Homo sapiens: one gene and its partners. The protein of the gene in region 6 interacts with the protein of the main gene of each other region in a biochemical or structural test. Each region holds a gene or a part of one and is shown on either strand. Other genes may lie near its edges.

The links.
Region 1: of the proteins of ITGA2B (region 6) and CAMK2A, one has a biochemical effect on the other in vitro, tested with the Homo sapiens proteins (one study listed by BioGRID).
Region 2: of the proteins of ITGA2B (region 6) and PRKACA, one has a biochemical effect on the other in vitro, tested with the Homo sapiens proteins (one study listed by BioGRID).
Region 3: the proteins of ITGA2B (region 6) and F2 form a complex in vitro, tested with the Homo sapiens proteins (one study listed by BioGRID).
Region 4: the proteins of ITGA2B (region 6) and FN1 form a complex in vitro, tested with the Homo sapiens proteins (one study listed by BioGRID).
Region 5: the proteins of ITGA2B (region 6) and COL2A1 form a complex in vitro, tested with the Homo sapiens proteins (one study listed by BioGRID).

The regions. Positions count from the first base shown.
Region 1 is NC_000005.10:150,248,274-150,251,872, forward strand, and holds part of CAMK2A (calcium/calmodulin-dependent protein kinase type II subunit alpha), read right to left. Parts: intron 3,572-3,599; coding exon 3,477-3,571; intron 2,538-3,476; coding exon 2,415-2,537; intron 2,037-2,414; coding exon 1,953-2,036; intron 1-1,952. UniProt on the Homo sapiens protein: Calcium/calmodulin-dependent protein kinase that functions autonomously after Ca(2+)/calmodulin-binding and autophosphorylation, and is involved in various processes, such as synaptic plasticity, neurotransmitter release and long-term potentiation.
Region 2 is NC_000019.10:14,107,763-14,111,361, forward strand, and holds part of PRKACA (cAMP-dependent protein kinase catalytic subunit alpha), read right to left. Parts: intron 629-3,599; exon of another isoform or gene 223-628; coding exon of another isoform or gene 1-222.
Region 3 is NC_000011.10:46,722,199-46,725,797, reverse strand, and holds part of F2 (prothrombin preproprotein), read right to left. Parts: intron 2,619-3,599; coding exon 2,513-2,618; intron 2,417-2,512; coding exon 2,280-2,416; intron 1-2,279. UniProt on the Homo sapiens protein: Thrombin, which cleaves bonds after Arg and Lys, converts fibrinogen to fibrin and activates factors V, VII, VIII, XIII, and, in complex with thrombomodulin, protein C. Functions in blood homeostasis, inflammation and wound healing.
Region 4 is NC_000002.12:215,405,044-215,408,642, forward strand, and holds part of FN1 (fibronectin isoform 1 precursor), read right to left. Parts: intron 3,384-3,599; coding exon 3,255-3,383; intron 3,155-3,254; coding exon 3,065-3,154; intron 2,279-3,064; coding exon 2,084-2,278; intron 1,468-2,083; coding exon 1,195-1,467; intron 1-1,194. UniProt on the Homo sapiens protein: Fibronectins bind cell surfaces and various compounds including collagen, fibrin, heparin, DNA, and actin. Fibronectins are involved in cell adhesion, cell motility, opsonization, wound healing, and maintenance of cell shape.
Region 5 is NC_000012.12:47,987,477-47,991,075, forward strand, and holds part of COL2A1 (collagen alpha-1(II) chain isoform 1 precursor), read right to left. Parts: intron 2,330-3,599; coding exon 2,285-2,329; intron 1,806-2,284; coding exon 1,752-1,805; intron 234-1,751; coding exon 135-233; intron 1-134. UniProt on the Homo sapiens protein: Type II collagen is specific for cartilaginous tissues. It is essential for the normal embryonic development of the skeleton, for linear growth and for the ability of cartilage to resist compressive forces.
Region 6 is NC_000017.11:44,376,150-44,379,649, reverse strand, and holds part of ITGA2B (integrin alpha-IIb preproprotein), read left to right. Parts: intron 1-939; coding exon 940-1,007; intron 1,008-1,140; coding exon 1,141-1,288; intron 1,289-1,859; coding exon 1,860-1,952; intron 1,953-2,561; coding exon 2,562-2,641; intron 2,642-3,261; coding exon 3,262-3,342; intron 3,343-3,465; coding exon 3,466-3,500. UniProt on the Homo sapiens protein: Integrin alpha-IIb/beta-3 is a receptor for fibronectin, fibrinogen, plasminogen, prothrombin, thrombospondin and vitronectin. It recognizes the sequence R-G-D in a wide array of ligands.

The DNA of each region.
Region 1 (3,599 bases), on a different chromosome or scaffold from region 6:
AGAGAATCCCAGGAGGATTTTCTCTTTTTTTTTTTTATTTCCAAGTTTTTTATTTTATATATATATATATATTATATAATACTTTAAGTTCTAGGGTACATGTGCACAACGTGCAGGTTTGTTACATATGTATACATGTGCCACGTTGGTGTGCTGCACCCATTAACTCGTCATTTACATTAGGTATATCTCCTAATGCTATCCCTCCCCCCTCCCCCCACCCCACAACAGGCCCCGGTGTGTGATGTTCCCCTTCCTGTGTCCAAGTGTTCTCATTGTTCAATTCCCATCCATGAGTGAGAACATGCGCTGTTTGTTTTTTTGTCCTTGCGATAGTTTGCTGAGAATGATGGTTTCCAGCTTCATCCATGTCCCTACAAAGGACAGGAACTCATCATTTTTTATGGCTGCATAGTATTCCACGGTGTATATGTGCCACATTTTCTTAATCCAGTCGATCATTGTTGGACATTTGGGTTGGTTCCAAGTCTTTGCTATTGTGAGTAGTGCCGCAATAAATATATGTGTGCATGTGTCTTTATAGCACCATGATTTATAATCTTTTGAATCCCAGGAGGATTCTCAATGTAGAGAAAGCCTCCTCCATCAACAAGCAGGCTGGGGGCTAATGGCCCCTTTTGTTCCAGAGCCATCTGATTCAGACCTGACTTGACACTGTCTGAATCCCACTGCTTATGATGTTAAGAATCCCTGATTCTGATATTTTGAGACTTCCTCTGTGACACAGCTTCCACTGCAGGATGGGGATGGGACTCAGTTCTCCTGGCATCATGCTGGCCACCACCCCTTGGTCTGTGTCCCCATCCTAAGCCTCCACTCCAGGCCTGGGAGCAGCAGATAAGGAGGTTCCACAAGAGCTGGGGCCTCCGCCTCTTCCCTCATCATCCCCAGCGTGCTGACGGCTCCTCTGTTCCACTGGCCAGGGGCCCCTCAGTGCCTGGCAAAGGCCAGGCCAGGAGCTGTCACCACCCTGAGAGCACACAGAACCTGCAAGAGTGTGAAGCTCTGGGACCACCTGGGTGCCACTGAGCTTCCTCAGGGCCACAATCACTGTCTGAGTGCCTCAGCCATTCCTCCACAGTACTGGGCAGCTGGGGCGCCTCCCTGACCAGGGTCTCACGTTCAGTCATGTCTCACCCCCAAAAGCTCTCCCCAGCCACTCTGAACCACTTGTGGTGCCCCTAAGGGGTCAGGCGCACTTCCAAACTTCTGCACAGGCTGCTTCCTCTGTCTGGAACACGTTCCCATTCTTTTTTTTGTTTTTTTTTTTTTGAGACAGAGTCTCTCTCTGTTACTCAGGCTGGAGTGCAATGGCACGATCTCACTCACTGCAACCTCCGCCTCCCAGGTTCAAGCAATTTTCCTGCCTCAGCCTCCTGAGTAGCTGGGATTACAGGTATGTGCCACCATGCCTGGCTAATTTTTGTATTTTTGGTAGAGACAGGGTTTCACCTCATTGGCCAGGCTGGTCTTGAACTTCTGACCTCAGGTGATCTGCCCACCTCAGCCTCCCAAAGTGTTGGGATTACAGGCATGAGTCACTGCGCCCGGCCACACTTTCCCATTCTGACTCTAACTTGGCTAATACCTGCTTATCCTCCAAGGTCTCAGCTTAAACGCCCCTGGCTCCAGACCCAGAATACCATTGTCCTGCTGCATTCTGCCACCATCTTGAGGCTTTCCCAGGCATGGCACTCACCACTGCCCCATAACGCCCCAGGAACTTGTCTGTCCTCTCCACTAGAGCAAGGGCTCAGTCATTCACCGCTCACTCCCCAAGCCCAACCTGCTGTCCAGTATGCAGTAGGTGTTCAATAAATGCTTATTGAATCAATGAAGGAAAGAATTAGTGAGCGAGTCTCCTGGCCTCTGTGGAGACCCAGGCAGAGCTAGTCCCATGGCCAGGACTGTGGAGGGTGAGGACCTGTTACCTTCAGTTTCCTCCTGGCATTGAACTTCTTCAGGCAGTCCACGGTCTCCTGTCTGTGCATGCAGGATGCCACGGTGGAGCGGTGCTGGAGGAAGTAGGGGAGAGGGCTGTGAGTGGAAGGCAGGCTGGAAGACAGGCCCACCCAAGGGTACCCTTCAGCAGGGCATCTTAATGGAGGTGTGGTTGACATCTTGGGAAGAACGATTCATTGCTCTAGGAGATGCTTCAGGGTGTTTAGCATCCTGGCACCAGACATTCAATGCCAGTAGCACCATCAGTTGTATGCCAACCCAGAACACTCACTCCTCGTTTCCACATTACCCCTGAGAACCACAGCAGGGGCAGTCTCTTGGATTAAGCCCTCTTGGCCCCATGGGCCAGGGGAAGGGCCAGAACTCTGTGGGGGCCTGGATCATGAGGTCTGGAGGGGCTCCTGGGAGAAGTCCTGCTGAGGAAGGCTCACCGAGATCCAGGGGTGCTTAAGGGCTTCGGCAGCTGTGATGCGTTTGGATGGGTTAATGGTCAGCATCTTATTGATCAGATCCTTGGCTTCCGGGGTGACAGTGTCCCATTCCGGCGATGGGAACTGGAAGGGGCAGAGAGGCCAGGTTTGCCCAGCCTGCCCCAGGCCACCCCTGCGATCCCCCAGCCCCTGACTGGCAGGGGAGCAGGCAGGGGTCCTACTGCCCATCCACTCGGACATCCACACCAGGAGGAGTTGGGGCTCCTCACTGCAGGGGAGGGCCCTAGCCCCATACAAATCAGAACACGGCAGAGGGAAAGGAGGCCTCCCTCCAACCATCTTTCTGAGACTGTGCCTTATTTGCAGAGCAGCCGGTCAGTGGCTTTAGCCCAGACTTCAGAATCAAAAGGCCTGGATTCAAGTCCTGGCTCTGCCTCCTGGGCTGTGTAACCTGGGTAAGTCACATGACCTCTTGAGCTATCTCTAGAGATGTTGTGAGAATTAAATACAATATAAAACATACGGCACAGAGCTTAATAGCTATCTGCATAAAAGCAATATAGCTTGGTAGTTAGAAGCATGGATGGTAGAGCCAGACTGCCTGGTTCAAATCCCACCTCTACCATTTCTTAGCTGTGTGATCTAGGCAGTTACTTGACCTCTCTGTATGTCAGCTTCTCTATATGTAAAATGGGAATAATAACAGCACCTATATCATAGATTGGTGTGAGGATTAAATGTAATAATATGTGTAAAACATTCAGAGAGTGCTATAGAATTGTTAGCTATTATTATTTGTATATATGAGAGAGAAACAGAGAAACCCTGGCTTGGGAGGCGCCTCTCCCCTACTCCTCACTCCATTTTGGTGCTGCTTCTTGCCTTCTGGGGCAAGATAAATCTCCAATCATTAGGCACAGCATGGTAACCACCTGGCCCTGGTCAGTCTTCATGCTCCCCTGGGGTTCACCCCTGTGCCAGAACTAGAGAGTGGCTTGGCGCTGGCTTTCACTGGAAGGGCACCAGAGGATGATGGGAGCTGAAGAGAGGAGCGACACTCACATCATAGGCGCCGGCTTTGATCTGCTGGTACAGGCGGTGCTGGTCCTCATCCCAGAACGGGGGGTACCCAACCAGCAGGATGTACAGGATGACCCCTGGAAAGAGGACCAGAGAACCTTCAAC
Region 2 (3,599 bases), on a different chromosome or scaffold from region 6:
TTTGGCTGTTCCTCTGGCCCCTTCTCTGGGGAGGCCGGGCCTGGGATGGAGGCCTCGGGGGCTCGGGTAGCAGGTGCCCTTGGGGGGCTCAGCTGTCACCTTGGCCCCCAGCTGGCCCTGTTCCTCTCCGTGGCAATCGCAAGGGCATTGCTCCAGAGCTGGTTCAAGGGAAGTCTCGCCCGATGCCCACTCCTCGGCCCCATGGTATCCCAAGGTGAACATCACCGCCTGGCTAATGTTGAAACTTCCCCGGCAGACCCTGTGCCGGCTGCTGTCTACACTGTCTCATCTGACTCACTCGGCAACCTGCCTTGTATCCATTGTCTCCACTTAACAACCCAGGAAACAGGCTTGAAAACAGTCATTCTCGTCTCTGCTGAGACACAGCCCAGCAAAGTGGCTAAGGGCCAGGACTTGGGGTCAAGATCCAGTTCAGAGCCCAGCCTGGTCTCTGATGAACTCTGTGACTTTGGGTAACTGATCTCACCTCTCTAGGCCTCAGTTTTCCTCATCTGTAAAGTGGGGTGGTTTTGAGGAATGAATGAGTTCATCTTGACAAAGGGAGTTGAACAGTGGCCCCGTGTGATGATAGTGCCAGATAAATGTCAGCTATTATTATTTTTTATTTATCTATCTATTGACTGATTGATTGATTGATTGATTGAGACGGAGTCTCCCTCTGTCGCCCAGGCTGGAATGCAGTGGCGCAATCTCCGCTCACTGCAAGCTCCGCCTCCCGTGCTCACGCCATTCTCCTGCCTCAGCCTCCTGAGTAGCTGGGACTACAGACGCCTGCCACCACGCCCAGAGAATTTTTTGTATTTTTTTTAGTGGAGACGGGGTTTCACCGTGTTAGCCAGGATGGTCTCGATCTCCTGACCTCGTGATCCACCCGCCTCGGCCTCCCAAAGTGCTGGGATTACAGGCGTGAGCCACCATGCCCGGCCAATTTATTTTTTTTAATTATTATTATTTTTTTTTTTGAGATGGAGTCCCACTTTGTTGCCCAGGCTGGAGTGCAGTGGCACAATCTCAGCTCACTGCAACCTCCGCCTCCCAGGTTCAGATGATTCTCCTGCCTCAGCCTCCTGAGTAGCTGGGATTACAGACACCTGCCACCACGCCCAGCTAATTTTGGTATGTTTAGTAGAGACAGGGTTTTGCCATGTTGGCTAGGCTGGTCTCGAACTCCTGACCTCAGGTGATCTGCCCACCTTGGCCTCCCAAAGTGCTGGGATTACAGGCATGAGCCACCGTGCCCAGCCTATTATTTTCTAAATTGAGGTATAAAATATGGGGAGAGAGGCTGGGTGAGGTGGCTGACGTCTGTAATCCCAGCACTCTGGGAGGCCAAGGTGGGTGGATCACAAGGTCAGGAGTTCGAGACCAGCCTGGCCAACATGGCGAAACCCCATCTCTACTAAAAATAAAAAAATGAGGCCAGGCACGGTGGGTCACACCTATAATCCCAGCACTTTGGGAGGCCAAGGCGGGTAGATCACTTGAGGTCAGGAGTTCAAGACCAGCGTGGTCAACATGGTAAAACCCCGTTTCTACTAAAAGTACAAAAAAATCAGCCGGGCATGGTGGCAGGAGAATCGCTTCGACCCGGGAGGCAGAAGTTGCAGTGAGCTGAGATCATGCCATTGCACTCCAGCCTAGGCGACGGGGCGAGACTCTGTCTCCAAAACAAAACAAAAAAATTAGCCAGGCGTGGTGGTGATGTGTGCCTGTAATCCTAGCTACCTGGGAGGCTGAGGCAGGAGAATTGCTTGAATCCGGGAGACTGAGGTTGCAGTGAGCCGAGATTGCACCACTGCACTCCAGCCTGGGTGACAGAGCAAGACTCGTCTAAGAAAAAAAAAAGAAAAAAGAAAAGAAAATATGGGGAGCGATCGGGCATGGTGGCTCACGTCTATAATCCCAGCACTTTGGGAGGCCGAGGCAGGCAGATCACTTGAGGTCAGGAGTTTGAAACCAGCCTGGCCAACATGGTGAAACCCCGTCTCTACTAAAAATACAAAAATTAGCTGGGCACGGTGGCGCATGCCTGTAATCCCAGCTATTTGGGAGGCTGGGGCAGGAAAATCTCTTGAACTTGGGAGGCAGAGGTTACAGTGAGCTGAGATCATGCCACTGCACTCCAGCCTAGGCGACAGAGTGAGACTCTGTCTCAAAAAAAAAAAAAAAAAAAAAAAAAAAAATATATATATATATATATATATATATATATATATACACACACACACACACACACATAGGGAGAGCCGGGAACGGTGGCTCATGCCTGTAATCCCAGTGCTTTAGAAGGCCGAGGTTGGAGGATCGCTTGAGGCCTGGAATTAGAGACCAGCCTTGGCAACATAGCAAGACCCAATCTCTACAAAAAATAAAACAATTAAAAAATTAGCTGAGCATAGTGGCCCATGCCCGCAGTTTCAGCTAAGCAGGAGGCTGAGGCAGGAAGATTGCTTAAAGCCCAGGAGATTGAGGTTGCAGTGAGCTATGATCACACCACTACACTCCAGCCTGAGCAAGAGTGAGACTCTTTCTCAAAAAAATAATAATACTCTGGGAGGCCGAGTTGGGGGGATTGCTTGAATACAGGAATTCGAGACCAGCCTGGACAACATCAAAACCCTCTACAAAAAATAAAAACATTAGCCAGGTGTGGTGGTATGCACCTGTAGTCCCAGCTACTCAGGAGGCAGAGGTGGGAGGATTGTTCAAGCCCGGGACATAGAGCCTGCAGTGAGCCGTGACTGAGCCATTACACTGCAGGCTGGGTGACAGAGTGAGGCCCTGTCTCAAAAAAAAAAGTAATAATAAAAAAACCCCAAAAACAAATATAGGAGATACACTGAGTGCTCAAATCTTAAATGCGCAGCCTGACAGATTCTTGCATTATGGACTTGTCCTTTTAACCACCACCTAGGGCTACAAGGGACCAGCCCCTTGCTGAGTATTTTCTATGCTTCGTTCTCACCCTGTGGGGTGGGAGCTGCTGTTATTCCCACTGTACAGAGGAGAAGACTGATCAGGTCTGAGGTCACTTGCCTGCCCCCACATCCCATGAGATTAACTACTTCACTGCCAACTCAGCCATTGGTTTCAGTGCTGAGTCCAGTGCACCAGGGTGGCCAATGTGGACAGAGCTGCCTTCAACCCCCTGATGTTCCTGGGTTTGCTGCCACCGAGGGGCCCTGTACACTTGCCCTTTGGCATTGCTGGTTATCTGCCTGCCAGTAATCCCACATGGCCTTGTGGGGAGCCACCCCCACTACCTGTCTCCAGAGCTTTCCCTCAGCATTCAGAGAGAAGAGCCCTCATGGAGCTAGAAAGTGGTAGATGGTGGCTGGGTGCAGTGGCTCACGCCTGTAATCCCAGCACTTTGGGAGGCTGAGACAGGCAGATCACCTGAGGTTGGGAGTTTGAGACCAGCCTGACCAACATGGAGAAACCCTGTCTCTACTAAAAATACAAAATTAGCTGGGCGTGGTGGCACATGCCTGTAATCCCAGCTACTCAGGAGGCTGAGGCAGGAGAATTGCTTGAACCCGGGAGGCAGAGGTTGCAGTGGGCTCAGATCGCGCCATTGC
Region 3 (3,599 bases), on a different chromosome or scaffold from region 6:
CAGGGGTGTGAACCCCGGTCTTGCTGCTTTCTGCCTGTGTGACCTCAGGTTACTTAACCTCTCTGGGCTTCTGACCGTTTGCCTTTAAAGGGGTTACTAATGCCACTTTTGCAGGTTTGTTGAGAGGATTAAACAAAATATACAGCATAAGTGTCTGGCACATAATAAACCAGAGATAGTAACCAGGTTTGGCCTCCTAGGCCATCTGTAATTAACTGGTAGTGGCTGCCTGGAGCTGCTGGAGGAGTCATGTTTTTATAGCTGCACAGCAGGACGCTTGCTGGGATCACTAGGCTGTTCACCTGGATGGGTCAATTTCTGCAAGCCTGCAACTTATTTATCATCAATGTGTGTGCGTGTGTATGGGGGTTGGGGAGTAAATAGTAGCTGTTTTTGTTGGGATAAACTTGCTATAAGACCAATTCCAGGGGCCAGGCGCAGTGGCTTACACCTGTAATCCCAGAACTTTGGGAGGCCGAGCTGGGCAGATCACCGGAGGTCAGGAGTTCAAGATCAGCCAGGCCAACATGAAGAAACCCCGTCTCTACTAAAAATACAAAAATTAGCCAGGCGTGGTGGCGTGTGCCTGTAATCCCAGCTATATGAGAGGCTGAGGCAGAGAATCGCCTGAACCCAGGAGGTGGAGGTTGCAGTGAGCCAAGATTATGCCACTGCACTCCAGCCTGGGTGACAGAGTGAGACTCCATCTCAAAAAAAAAAAAAAAAAAGGCCGGGCGCAGTGCCTCACCCCTGTAATCTCAGCAGTTTGGGAGGCCGAGGCGGGAGGATCACAAGGTCAGGAGTTTGAGATCAGCCTGGCCAACATGGTGAAACCCCGTCTCTACTAACATAAAAAAAAATTAGCCAGGAGTGGTGGCACACGCCTGTAATCCTAGCTACTCAGGAGGCTGAAGCAGGGGAATCGCTTGAACCCAGGAGGCGGAGGTTGCAGTGAGCTGAGATAGGGCCACTGCACTCCAACAGCCTGGGCAAGGGAGTGAGACTCCATCTTAGAAAGAAAAAAAAAAAAGACCAACCCCAGGAATGAGCAATGGGCCCGACAGGGATGCCTAGAGAACAAACACTAACCCATGTTTGTGGACTGGTAATCGGCACAAATTCTTTACCCCTGCCTGCATCCACATCCCTTGCTCTGTGATTTTACAGGCTGAGGTGTAGTTTACCTCTTGACCCTGGCCTTGAACATATACTTGCTCTGGCCAATGGAACGTGGGCAGGGCTGACTGTGCCTGTTCTGAGCCAGGCCTTCAGGACAGAAGACGCTTTTCTGTTCATTGTTTTCTGTGTCTGTCATCAGCATAAGAAGAGTTTTCCCAGGTACCTTCTTTCAGCCTCAGCCCCAGCATGAACGCACGTGGAGCAGATCTAGGCCCAACCCTCAACGAGGAGCCAGACTCAGCTGGACCCATTATTTGAATCAGAGCCACCCAGCCAGGGCCAACCTCCGTCAGTTGACCCTACAGACGCATTAGCGAGTGCAGCCACACCTGCCAACCCTCATGGGAAAAAGAAATGCTTATTGTGGTCTGCCTCAGGGAAGGGGTGGCTATAGCTACTTAACACACCAAGGAAATAATAATGACAGAATCCCGCAGGGCCAAACTGCACAAGGCTTGCTCTGTGATACTCAGAACAGGGTGTGTGGACTGAAATGGCTAGGGAGGGCTTCCCGGAGGGAGGAGTGCCTTGATCAGAAAGGAGGCATGTTTGGAATGAGCCACAGCCTGGACCATAAGGAAGTCAAGAGTGGGGAGGGGGAGGAGGAGGCTGGCAGATCCCCCCACTCAGATCCCCTGATTCCCTGACTTTACTGAGCAATAGGCACAGATATGATCTGAATGACTGACGCCAGCTCTGAAGGTGGCCAGCATCTTTTTTTTTTCTTTGAGACAGAGTTTTGCTCTTGTCGCCCAGGCTGAAGTACAGTGGCAGGATCTCAGCTCACTGCAAACTCCGCCTCCCGGGTTCAAGCGATTCTCGTGCCTCAGCCTCCAGAGTAGTTGGGATTACAGGCGCCCACCACCACGCCTGGCAATTTTTGTATTTTTAGTAGAGACGGGGTTTTGCCATGTTGGCCCAGCTGGTCTCAAACCCCTGACCTCAGGTGATCTGCCTGCCTCAGCCTCCCAAAGTGCTGGGATTACGGGCATGAGCCACTGTGCCTGGGTAGCCAGTATTCTTGGTTCCCATCCCAGGCTGCCAGGCCCCATGAAGCCCCCGGGCCTTGGCCATGGGCCGCCCCACTGCCCCCAGCTTACCACAGACAGGGATGCTGCATTCCTGCCTCCTCACGGTGGGGTCTGTAGTGTAGCACCAGGGTCCCGTGGTGCTGCTGTCGGGGTTGCGGCAGAAATTCTCCTGTAGGTCGGCCCCAGGATGGGTAGTGGAGTTGATTCTGGAACAGGAAATTGCCCAACAGGAGGCTGTTGGGCTTGAGGTACGCTTGCTCCCTGTTCTCAGCCCATGGTGGGAAGGCCGGCCCCTCACTCACTCAGGCTTATGTGGGTAGCGACTCCTCCATAGCTGGCACTCAATGCCTGACCGGGTGATGTTCACATGCCCTCGGTAGTTCGTACCCAGACCCTCAGCACAGTTACCTGCGGAGACCCCACCCCGGTCAGCCTTGGAGCCTGGGGACTTATTTCCTCTCTCCCTGCAAAGTTGTCTATCCCCCACCTCCCAGCTCATGCAGGTCCACAATCCTGAACCTGCATTCACCCAGCCCCTCTTCCTCTGCAACCAGCAGTTCTCCCATTCACTCAACAGTGGCCTCCAAATATTCGCTAAGTGCCTACCATATGACAGGCACTGTCGGGTGCTCAGTACACATCAACCAATAGGACAGTCACAGCCCTGCCCTCATGGAGCTTCCATTCTGTGGCTTCTCTTGGCCAGCAGGATGAAAAAGTGATGAAGGTCCTTTTCAACTGGCCCTGGTCTACCTGTCCCTGCTAGCTCAGCTTCTCATGCCTCTGGGTCTTTCCACGGATTGTTTCTTCTGACTGGAATGCCCACTTGTTTGTTCATCCATGCATCCCACCAGGCCAGGCAGAACTCTGCCTCTCCTGGGAAGCCATCTCTCATTTTTCTGGCAAACCAGACACTCATTTTCCTGTGGTCTCTTGGTGCCTTGAACAGAACTTTTCTTGCAATCACTTTATTGAATTATTTATTTTTATTTATGTATTTTGAGATGAGTCTTGTTCTGTTGCCGAGACTGAAGTGCAGTGGCATGATCTCAGCTCACTGCAACCTCTGCCTCCCAGATTCAAGAAATTCTCCCCCATCAGCCTCCCTAGTAGCTAGGATTACAGGCGCGTGCCACCACACCCCAGCTAATTTTTGTATTTTTAGTAGAGGTTGGGGGTTTCACTATGTTGGCCAGGATGGTCTCAAACCCCTGGCCTGGGCGCCCACCTCAGCTCCCAAAGTGCTAGGATTACAGGCTTGAGCCACCACACCCGGCCGCAATCATTTTAATATTTTGTATTTTTGTTCTCTTTTGAGATTTTGAATTCCTTGAAGGCAGAGACTGTATTTGATTCTCTTAAAATCCCCAGCACCTGATATAGTGCCTG
Region 4 (3,599 bases), on a different chromosome or scaffold from region 6:
AATGACAGCAAGAAGAAGCTCTCTATGGGTCAAAAGCAATATTCTGTGAATAGCCCTTTGCTAGAGAAATAAAAGTTATTTTCACATGGTTCAGATTAGACAGTAATTACAGTAATGATAACGTATCCTCAGATTCATGGTAGGATACTGGTGAGTTTGCACTATCAGAATCACATAAGTTGTGGAGTTTATTCTTGAGAATAATAACCAGCAGTTTTCCCACCGAAATTTAAATTACCTTTCAAATAGAGGAAATCTTTAAGAGGCAGTCGAGTATAATAATTGAGAGCATGGGCTTCGGACATAGGTTATAGAGCCAGCTCTATCCCTTCCTATCTCTGTGACCCTACAAGTTGCAGAACTTTTTTAAAGCCTCAGTTTCTTTAAGTATTCAATACGGATACTAGTAAGACCTTCCGGCTGGGCACGATGGCTCACGCCTGTAATCCCAGCACTTTGGGAGGCCAAAGTGGGTGGATCACTTGAGGTCAGGAGTTTCAGACCAGCTTGGCCAACACAGCGAAACCCATTTCTACTAAAAACACAAAAATTAGCAGGGCATGGTGGCACACGCCTGTAGTCCCAGCTACTCGGGAGGCTGAGGCAGGAGAATTGCTTGAACCCAGGTGGTAGAGGTTCCAGTGAGCTGAGATGGTGCCACTGTACTCCAGCCCTGGCGACAGAGCGAGACTCCATCTCAAAAAAATAAATAAATAAAATAATAATAATAAGACCTTCCTTCCTAAGGTCAAAACAAAGAGTAAATATGAGAATAATGCTTGTAAAAACTGAGCAGATAAGCTGGTGGCTAGTAATACTAGACACTTGACAATTGCTATTGTTAAATGAATTCTACTCTAAGTGTTATGATCCTGCATTTTAACTTTGATCTAGATATATTTAGTTACACGAAAAATGCACTCAAATTAGATTCTCTTCAGTTCTCCCCTCTTAGTACCCTTCAGCTGGTACATGTATTTTAGAAATGGGTTACCACTTAGCATCCATGGAGCTTGTCTGAGTTTTGTTTTCAAGTTTAATGTGCTTTGTGTTCACTATGCATTCCCTTGCCGGCTGGGTATTTCCCTCTCTCTAAGCCATACACCTCTGAGTGAATGGTTTACTGCACTTTCTCACAGGCTGCAAGTGAGGGTGGAGAATTTGGAGGGGAGATAGAGATAGGAGAAGACATACTGGTTGTCTGTTGAGCAGTCAGAGGCTTGCTCTCCCTCCCATGGCTCACTGCAAAGACTTTGAAGTAATAGGTGACCCCAGGGGACAGCCCGGTGACTTCTGCAAAGGTGTTCCTGCTGATGGGCAGCCTCTGCCCGTGCTCGCCAGGCAGGTTGACGGGGATCACATCCACACGGTAGCCGGTCACTGCACTCTCAGGCGGTGTCCACATGATGGTGACCTTCACGTCTGTCACTTCCACAAACTGCAGGTCCCTGGGAGAGGGCACTGTATCTGACAGACAAGAGTCAACTGGTCATTCACATTCTCTGCTGAAGATTACTTTTAAGAAGCCAGTTTCTTGGATATGTTAGGCAGTTCATTGAGCCTCTCATTCGAGAGTTTTGCTAAGTTTTGTCTCTTAATCAGATCACATTTTCATGGTCCAGTCATAGTGCTTAAATTATGACATTTGAACCTTTTATCTAAAATAGGTAATAAGTGAGTTACCAGCATATGAAGTGTCATATGGTGGTGGGGGGAGAGGGTTATAAGAAAAGATACTAAAAAATTTTTTAGAAAAAGCCTTTGAAATAACTGCAGAAAATAATGTAACAGTTTTTGTTTTACTGAATCATTTTATAATACTTAAGAATCAAAAATGAAATGACCCTTAAGCTTCTAGGGGAAAATTTGTAGATGGACGTTATGGTGTCAGTTTTTAATCAGAAAGGCCAGTAGCCAGCTTTGATAAGTTACTTATGACATTTCAGCTAAATATCAGAAGTTTAGGGAAAAACTAATATATAAGATTTCTTGAATGAGAGGACTGTTGACAGAGACAAAACAACCCTCCTTCAGGAACAATCCTGATAAGATAACATAGGAAGTGTCTTCTTAAAAAAGTTACCTGAGCGTGGGGTGCCAGTGGTTTCTTGTTGAATGACAACAGGTGTACTTTCTTGATTTTCTTCCACAGCATAGATAGTGATGTTATACTGAACACCAGGTTGCAAGTCACTGAGGGTGACGGAGTTTGCAGTTTCAGGAAGGTTGAGTTCTGTGCTGCTACCTTCTACTGATGGCGAATAGACTATTCTGTACCCTGCAGATTCATGAGCAAAAGTAAGATGCACTGTTTTCTTTGAGACAGAGGCTTAGAAACACCATAAATCCTCCCTTTTCTAATATCCCTTAGCATCTTGCTTGATTAGTGAAGAGCCAGTGATACTTTTTGACTCTTTGAATATTGCCACTTCTTCTAATAATGACTATTCAGCACGAAGATAAAATAAGAACAGTCATGCGAACCTTTTTAATAATAAATGTCATCCTTGAAGACCTGACATCCTTAATAAATGTCAATTAGAGATGCCATTAGGTGAAAATATTCATGTTAAGCTGATTTTTCCTCTTTGAGCTCCAGACGAGGGAAGCAATTAATGAACCAGCCTAAGCAGAGTTGTCTAGCACTGTGTGTGTCTTTTTGGAACTTCAGTGATGAGGCAGTTGAATCACCTAATGAGCTAAGACGACAGCTCAGCTTTCTCCTTAAGGATAAATCTTAGAGCAACGTTTTCAGGAAATTACACCTCTTCAACCCTGGGAACACTTGCTTTAATAAGCCAATGAGCTGGCTTTACAGGTTGTGTGTATGTTGTGGTGTGTGTGTATAAGGGAGTTGGTGAAATGGTTTCAAGGGGAAATGTGCCATAGAAAATAACTCCCCCACCCCCGCCACACACACACACACACACACACACAAACCCCTCTCCCATAAATTATATTGGAGATTTAAAGTGATATGCAGGTCCGCAGTCAGAATCTGCGCCCTCCCTGCTGATGTCATTAAGATTAACATAGCAGCCAAAGAGGGGGACGCTTAGCTGACCTGTGATGGGAGCCTGGGGTCTGCTCCAGCGAACAACAATTGAGGTGTCATCAACTTGGTCCACAGTCGTGTCAGGAGGGGCATCAGGCGCTAAGAAAGAAAGAAAGTGGGGCAAACAGTCAGGAAGTGCTACTACAGGCCTGTGTTTTACAGAAAAAGATTCTTTTAACACTATGTAGCACACATGTACCTGTTGTTTGTGAAGTAGACAGGATCAAACTCTGCTCCCCATCCTCAGATATCTGATAGACATTTACAATGTATTTTCGGCCAGGAAGCAGGTCAGGGATGTTCACAGAAGTGGCTGTGCTTGGAAGATCTTTGAAATGAAAAGAAAAGGTAACTAATCAGAGCAAACTAGTCCCTCAAATGACTCTACAGCTTATAAGAAGGATATTTTAAGAATTATATATTCATAGGGAAAAGCGACTAGAAGGTAATGTGCTAATAGCTAATCAGTGATTATTATTATTATTTTTACACAGAGTCTTGCTGTGTTGCCCAGGCTGGAGTGCAGTGGCACAATTTCAGCTCA
Region 5 (3,599 bases), on a different chromosome or scaffold from region 6:
AGGTGGGGACAGGCATTGGGCCAGAATGAAGGTTTGGTGGTTGGAGCCCACAACTGTCAGAGCAAAGTACAGAGTCAAGAGTTCCAAAGCCACAGACCCCAGACCCCCCCAGGCCAAAGAGAAGCTGCACTTACGGAGGCACCAGCAGGCCCAGGGGACCCAGGAGTACCAGGTTCACCGCGAGGACCTTGAGCACCTTCAGGACCACGGGCACCAGTGGGGCCGGCTTCACCCTGGGAAGAGACAGGGAGGATGAAATGAAGAAGAAGAGAGGGGACACAGACCTCTAGTGGGTGGGCAATAGCTCAGGGCCAGCTGCAAGCACAGCACTAAATTATGCACATGCACCCAACCCTGCACATGAACATGTGCGTTCACACACAGTTCACGCTGCCGTTTTTCTCCCTGCCTGACCGAGCTGATGACTTGATGACTTCCCACGCCTGCCTCCTCTACTGCTTACCTCATCTCTACACAGTGAGCCTCCACATGCCACGGCACAGCTACATACTACAGCAATGGGCAACCTGCTGTTCCATCGACACCATCAGAAAAGCGTGGGCTGGGGACCCTGCCATCCTGGCACCGTGGGATGATGGACGGACACCGCTCTCTCCCCCACCTCCTGTTTTTCTATTTTATTGAGGAGCTGAGGTCCCTTCTAAGTCTCTGAACATCCCAGCTCAGAGCACCACCTCACTCCCATCTGGCTGACGGGTGAACAGTGACACCCTGGCTCCGGCCCCAGTCTGTTCTCAGTAAGCCAGAAAGCCAAGGCAAAAGCACATGGGGACTCTGCCCCTCCCTGCTCTCAATACAGCCCAATTCCCCTTAGCGGGCGCCTCTGGCAAGCCCCCTCCCCACAAAATGGCTTGTGCTTTTACTTTCATTTTTTCCTGAAAATTACAACCCACTCTAGATGGCAGAGTCCCTGGGGAGGGCTGCTGACCTGGAGAGAGGGCAGAGCCTCCTCAGGTTTCTTCTCAGAACATTCCTGCTTCACTGTGGTAATTATTATTTTCAAAAGGTCAGCCCCCCTCACCTTCCGCTGTCCCTCTTCACAATGGGTCTCCTTCACCCGGCTCCGGGACCTCAGACACTGTCTGGTTGCCATGGAAACCCCCAGGAGGGGAAAAGCAACCTGATGCCAGTGACACATGGAGGCTCCTTATTCATTCCCAGGGACGTTCACACTGGAATCCTTCCTGGGCTGCGAGGCCTGTCCCTGAACTGGCTGGCCTCCCACTGGCCTCTAGTAATCCTCCAGAGAACTCCGTTAACATGGTTTGGAAGAGCCAGGCACCCCAAATAAAGCAGAAACCCAGAGGGGAGCAGGGGCTCCCTGCCTGTGCCCTTTTCCCTGCCCAGTTCCCTCCAGTGCCCGTCAGGGCCCCGAGCTTGCTCAGCTGTTGGGTCTCCCCTAGGTTTGCTTCCCTGTGCTGCCACTCCTGGCCTTCTGCCCCTGCCAGGCCTATGGTGTATCCCCGTCTTCTTCTCTGTCCACCTTTCCCCACTCCAAAGTTGTAACTGGATCTCCCACATTTTATCTTCTGTCTTACTTTCCCTCCAGGTGAGACTGCGAGTGTCTGGCTTTTTGCCCTGCCTGGATGGAGGGGCCAGTGGGTGGGGTGGTGGGGAGCTACTTCTCAGAAGGGAGCAGGTGGTTGTTGAGGGAGCAATGAGCAAGGGTTACGGGGAAAGGACAGCTTCTCGGCACCCAGAAGTTCCTGACTGGACAACAGGGCACGTACCTTGGCTCCAGGAGCACCAGGGAAGCCAGGACCACCAGCAGGACCGACAGGACCCTGGAGAGAGTAGGCGGATGAGAAGAGAGGTGAATGCCAGTTCTGGCCTCCAAAGCGAGCCACCCCGACACCTCACACTCCTTCCCTCCTCTGTACTGATTTCACTCCATATCCATTGTGGCTAAAAGGCCTTGGATGAAAATTGTCCCCATTGCCAGCGTCCCCAGGAAACTTTGCCTGGCTTCAGAAGGCAAAGCAAGTTTCTGACTACATCTGTGGTGAGAAGCAGAAACTCCTTTGACCTCCCTCCTCTAAAAAGACTGCTGAAAGGATGGCTGAGGAAAATGAGCCCATGCTTCAAAGCTTGTTATCGATATGCTCAATTGATATTTACAAACTTCTTCTCTTTCCTCCCCCTTTCCAGTAGACATCAGAGTGCTGCTGTGGTTGCACCCAATACACCCTGCAGACTGCCTTGGGCTGCTTAACGGGACTTAAAGCACAGCAACAATGACCTGCTGAGGATGAAATGAACTTACCGGAGGCCCTGCGGGGCCTGGCTGACCATCGTTGCCTCGGGCACCCTGTGAGCAAGAAGGAAGTGACCATGAGAGGTGCCCACAGGCCCTGTCCGTCCCTGCTCCCAGCCCACCCTTACAGAAAACGAAGGACACACTGTGCCTGGGGTGTCCCAGGGCAGAGCACGAGGATGGCGAGGTGTGGGCTGCAGTTTTGGTGTCTGTGCGAGTGGGTGGCCAGAAGGCAGTAATGGGCTTCTTCTAATCTTTTTTTGTTGTTGTTTTTGAGACGGAGTCTGGCTCTGTCGCCAGGCTGGAGTGCAGTGGTGCGGTCTTGGCTCACTACAACCTCCACCTCTCAAGTTCAAGCAATTCTGCCTCAGCCTCCTGAGTAACTGGGATTACAGGCATGTGTCACCACACCTGGCTATTTTTTTTATTGTTATTTTTAGTAGAGACTGGGTTTTGCTATGTTGGCCAGGCTGGTCTGGAACTCCTGACCTCAGGTGATCCACCCGCCTCAGGCTCCCAAGGTGCTGGGATTACAGGCGTGAGCCACCGCACCTGGCCCCTAATCTTAAACAAAGCTTAAATCATTTTCTCTTTTCTTCAACTTCAGTTCAGACCCCAAATATCCGTAACTTCAAGGCCAAGTGATCATTTAAAGACTGAGAGAATTGAGTGTAAGGAAATGAAACAGCGAGGCAACCATGTGGACTCAGTGCTTCCTGCCTGCTCAGGGGGAAGCGCTTTCAAGGCTTGGTTAACCTCTGTGGTTAAGGCTTGGTTAAGGCCTCCTCTTGGTTGACTCCAGGTTGCCTCTTCCTCTGGCCCATCCCCAGACAGCCTGCTCTTACGGAAAACAAAGATGCCCATAGGATGTCTACCATTGGCTCCCTGATGGGGCAGGGCACCAGCCACAGCTCAAACACTACATCTGAGCTCAAGCCCTAAGAGGCTTTTGCTTACAAAGCAAGGCAAGGTTGCCAGCTCCTTCTCTAGGACTGGACTTGGAGGGGGAGGGTTTTTTCTGCCAAGTTTGTGGTGGCACCCCTCAAATGCTCTCTCAAGGTTCCTTAAGGCCCAGGGAACTCTTTACCGAAACTCTGGGGGCCACAGGCTGGGTGGAGCTGGGCCTAGGGCCTGACTGAGCAGGTCAGGGGGGTACCTTTTCCTGCTGAGTCCTGCCTGTCAGTCTCTGCCTCTCCTTAGAAGCTAAAGAAGGATGCTTTAGGGGGAGCTCGTGTTTTAAATACAACTCAACTCTTCTTCCTGGCTGGGGTCCATTTCTCCTAACGGAGACTCTCCAGATTGGCATTTAAGAGGAAAGCAAGAG
Region 6 (3,500 bases):
CCTGATAGCAAATCAGGATTAGGGTTAGTGCCAAGTCACAATGTGAACCCCAAAACCTTGATGTCATTCCAAACCCTAATGAAAACCTCAAAATCCAGCCAGTCATGGTGGCTCACACCTGTAATCCCAGCACTTTGGGAGACCGAGGCAGGCAGATTGCCTGAGGTCAGGAGTTAGAGACCAACCTGGCCAACATGGTGAAAACCCATCTCTACTAAAAATACAAAAAAAATTAGCCGGGTGTGGTGACGCATGCCTGTAATTCCAGCTACTCGGGAGGCTGAAGCAGGAGAATCACTTGAACCCAGGAGGCAGAGGTTGCAGTGAGCCAAGAGTGTGCCACAGCACTCCAGCCTGGGTGACAGAGCAAGACTCTGTCTCAAAAAAAAAAAAAAAAGCCAGGCGCAGTGGCTCACGCCTGTAATCCCAGCACTTTGGGAGGCCAAGGCGGGTGGATCACGAGGTCAGGAGATCAAGACCATCCTGGCTAACACAGTGAAACCCCGTCTACTAAAAATACAAAAAAAAAAAAAAAATTAGCTGGGCGTGGTGGCGGGTACCTGTAGTCCCAGCTACTTGGGAGGCTGAGGCAGGAGAATGGCGTGAACCCCGGGGGGCGGAGCTTGCAGTGAGCCGAGATAGTGCCACTGCACTCCAGCCTGGACGACAGAGCGAGACTCCGTCTCCAAAAATAAAATAAACACCTGAAAATCCCAGTATCCCCTAAGCTCTGATGTAAATTGACAAACCCTGACATTGTCCCAAACCTCCAAATAAACCCGAGCCCCGATACCATCTACAAACTCCTTTTCGTCCTCAGATCTTCTTACTCCCTAAGCCCCTATGTGAACCCCAAGCCCACTGTTTTCCTAACCCTGATGTAATCCCTAAACCTCACACATCCCCAACTTACCCGCACACCCCAATGTGCCCCTCTAGACACGAATCGTCCTGGACTGTGGGGAAGATGACGTATGTGTGCCCCAGCTTCAGCTCACTGCCAGCGTGTGAGGAGGCCTCCCATTCTGCCCGACCCTGGCCCTTTCTGCCTATCATACCTGCTCCACACCTTAGTCCCCTCTTTTCCCACATCCTGGGCCCAGACCCAGGCTCCCTGGCTTCACTCCTCTTTCCCCACAGGACGGGCTCCCCGCTCCTAGTTGGGGCAGATAATGTCCTGGAGCTGCAGATGGACGCAGCCAACGAGGGCGAGGGGGCCTATGAAGCAGAGCTGGCCGTGCACCTGCCCCAGGGCGCCCACTACATGCGGGCCCTAAGCAATGTCGAGGTATGGCCCCCACCCTGGGAACAGTACCCGGGACCTGGGAGGCACTGGAGCCTTGGCTCTCTCATCTCCCTCCCTGAGAGTCCCTCTTCTCTTCTGCTTTGCTGTCAAAGATGTAATTTTTTATTTTTTTTTTAATTTGGAGGAGGAATACTTGCTAATGGCACAGAATTCCAAAACTCTATTACAAAAACCAGAAAAACAAAAAAGGTTTAGGAACCAAATGTTAACAGGAACCTCTGTTAACATTTGGTGGATTTCCTTCCAGTCTTTTTTTCAATATTGACTCACACTCACATAAGTATATATTTATTTTTTATGTTGTTAATATAGTTTATAATAATGGGGGTCATACTCTAATGTTTTGTGTTTTTTATTTCCAAAATGAAAATGCCTAAAAAGTAGTAGTGCTACAGCAATACACACACTAGCATGTGACAGTCCCTTGAGACCCCACCCCAAGAAACCCCCCCCTCCCTACCTTGGCACACAAATCTTTCCAGACCTTCCAAGGGAGCTTAAATATATATATATGATGCTCTGTAATTTCTTTCTTGGAACTGCCTTCCTGAAGGGCTTTGAGAGACTCATCTGTAATCAGAAGAAGGAGAATGAGACCAGGGTGGTGCTGTGTGAGCTGGGCAACCCCATGAAGAAGAACGCCCAGGTGAGGCTGCTGGGTCGTGGTACCGGGTCTCCACCAGGGGCTCATGAATAACCAGATTTTAGGGGTGAGGTTTTAGAGCCACATAGTTCTGGGCCAGAATCTTGGTCCTCACACTCCCTTGCCACATGTCCTTGGGTGAGTGACTTTCCCTCTCTGAGCCCCTTTACCCAGTGGGCTTCCAGGTAAAATAGAAATAATAATGGTGGCCTGGTGCGGTGGCTCACGCCTGTAATCCCAGCACTCTGGGAGGCCGAGACGGGTGGATCACGAGGTCAGGAGTTCAAGACCAGCCTGGCCAACATAGCAAAACCCCGTCTCTACTAAAAATACAAAAATTACCCGGGCATGGTGGCGCACGCCTATAGTCAGAGCTACTCGGGAGGTTGAGGCAGAAAAATCACTTGAACCTGGGAGGTGGAGGTTGCAGTGAGCCGAGATCATGCCACTGCACTCCAGCCTGGGTGACAGAGTGAGACTCCGTCTCGGAAAAAAAAAAAAAGAAAAAGAATAGTGGTGATCTTGGAGGGTGAAGACTGGAGGCCACATTCAGGGCAGGGCTGTCCTAAGTGGGGCACTTGGGCAGTGACCTTGGCCCTCCTCATCTCCCAGATAGGAATCGCGATGTTGGTGAGCGTGGGGAATCTGGAAGAGGCTGGGGAGTCTGTGTCCTTCCAGCTGCAGATACGGAGGTACTGACCTGGCGAGCGTGCCTACCCACCACCCTTCCCCCGTCTGACCCCCGTGCAGAGCCCCTCAGGTCCCTTCCATACAGAAGGGTCTTTCGAGGCCAGGCGCAGTGGCTCACACCTGTAATCCCAGCACGTTGCGAGGCCAAGGCAGAAGGATCACTGGAGGTCAGGAGTTGGAGACCAGCCTGGCCAACATGGTGAAACCCCATCTCTACTAAAAATATAAAAATTAGCTGGGCATGGTGGTGCGCACCTACAATCCCAGCTACTCGGGAGGCTGAGGCAGGAGAATAGCTTGAACCGAACCTGGGAGGTGGAGGTTGCAGTGAGCTGAGATTGGGCCACTGCACTCCAGCCTTCCAGCCTGGGCGACAGTGCGAGATTCTATCTCAAAAGAAAAAAAAAAAGGTCTTTGAAGAAGCCTGGTTCCCTTTCTTCCTCAGAGATTTATGTCTGAGTCTTGGAGCCCTAGAGGAAGTTCTTTCCCAGGTCTAACTTCAGTGTGGCATGCTCTTTGTATAATTAGCTCTCTCTGAACTCTCTAAAATTCTGGCCTCACCCCCAGAAAGTCACTGGGCTGGTGTCCCTGGCCCTGTTTCTCCTCATCCCCTCCCCTCTAGCAAGAACAGCCAGAATCCAAACAGCAAGATTGTGCTGCTGGACGTGCCGGTCCGGGCAGAGGCCCAAGTGGAGCTGCGAGGGTGAGAGGCCAGGGGTGGAGAAGGGAGATGGCATTCAGGGCTCTAAACTCCAGGGGGCGCTGGGGAAACCTCACAGGCCAATCAGGGCATCACACTCTCTCTGGGGGTCTTGGGCACCTGCAGGAACTCCTTTCCAGCCTCCCTGGTGGTGGCAGCAG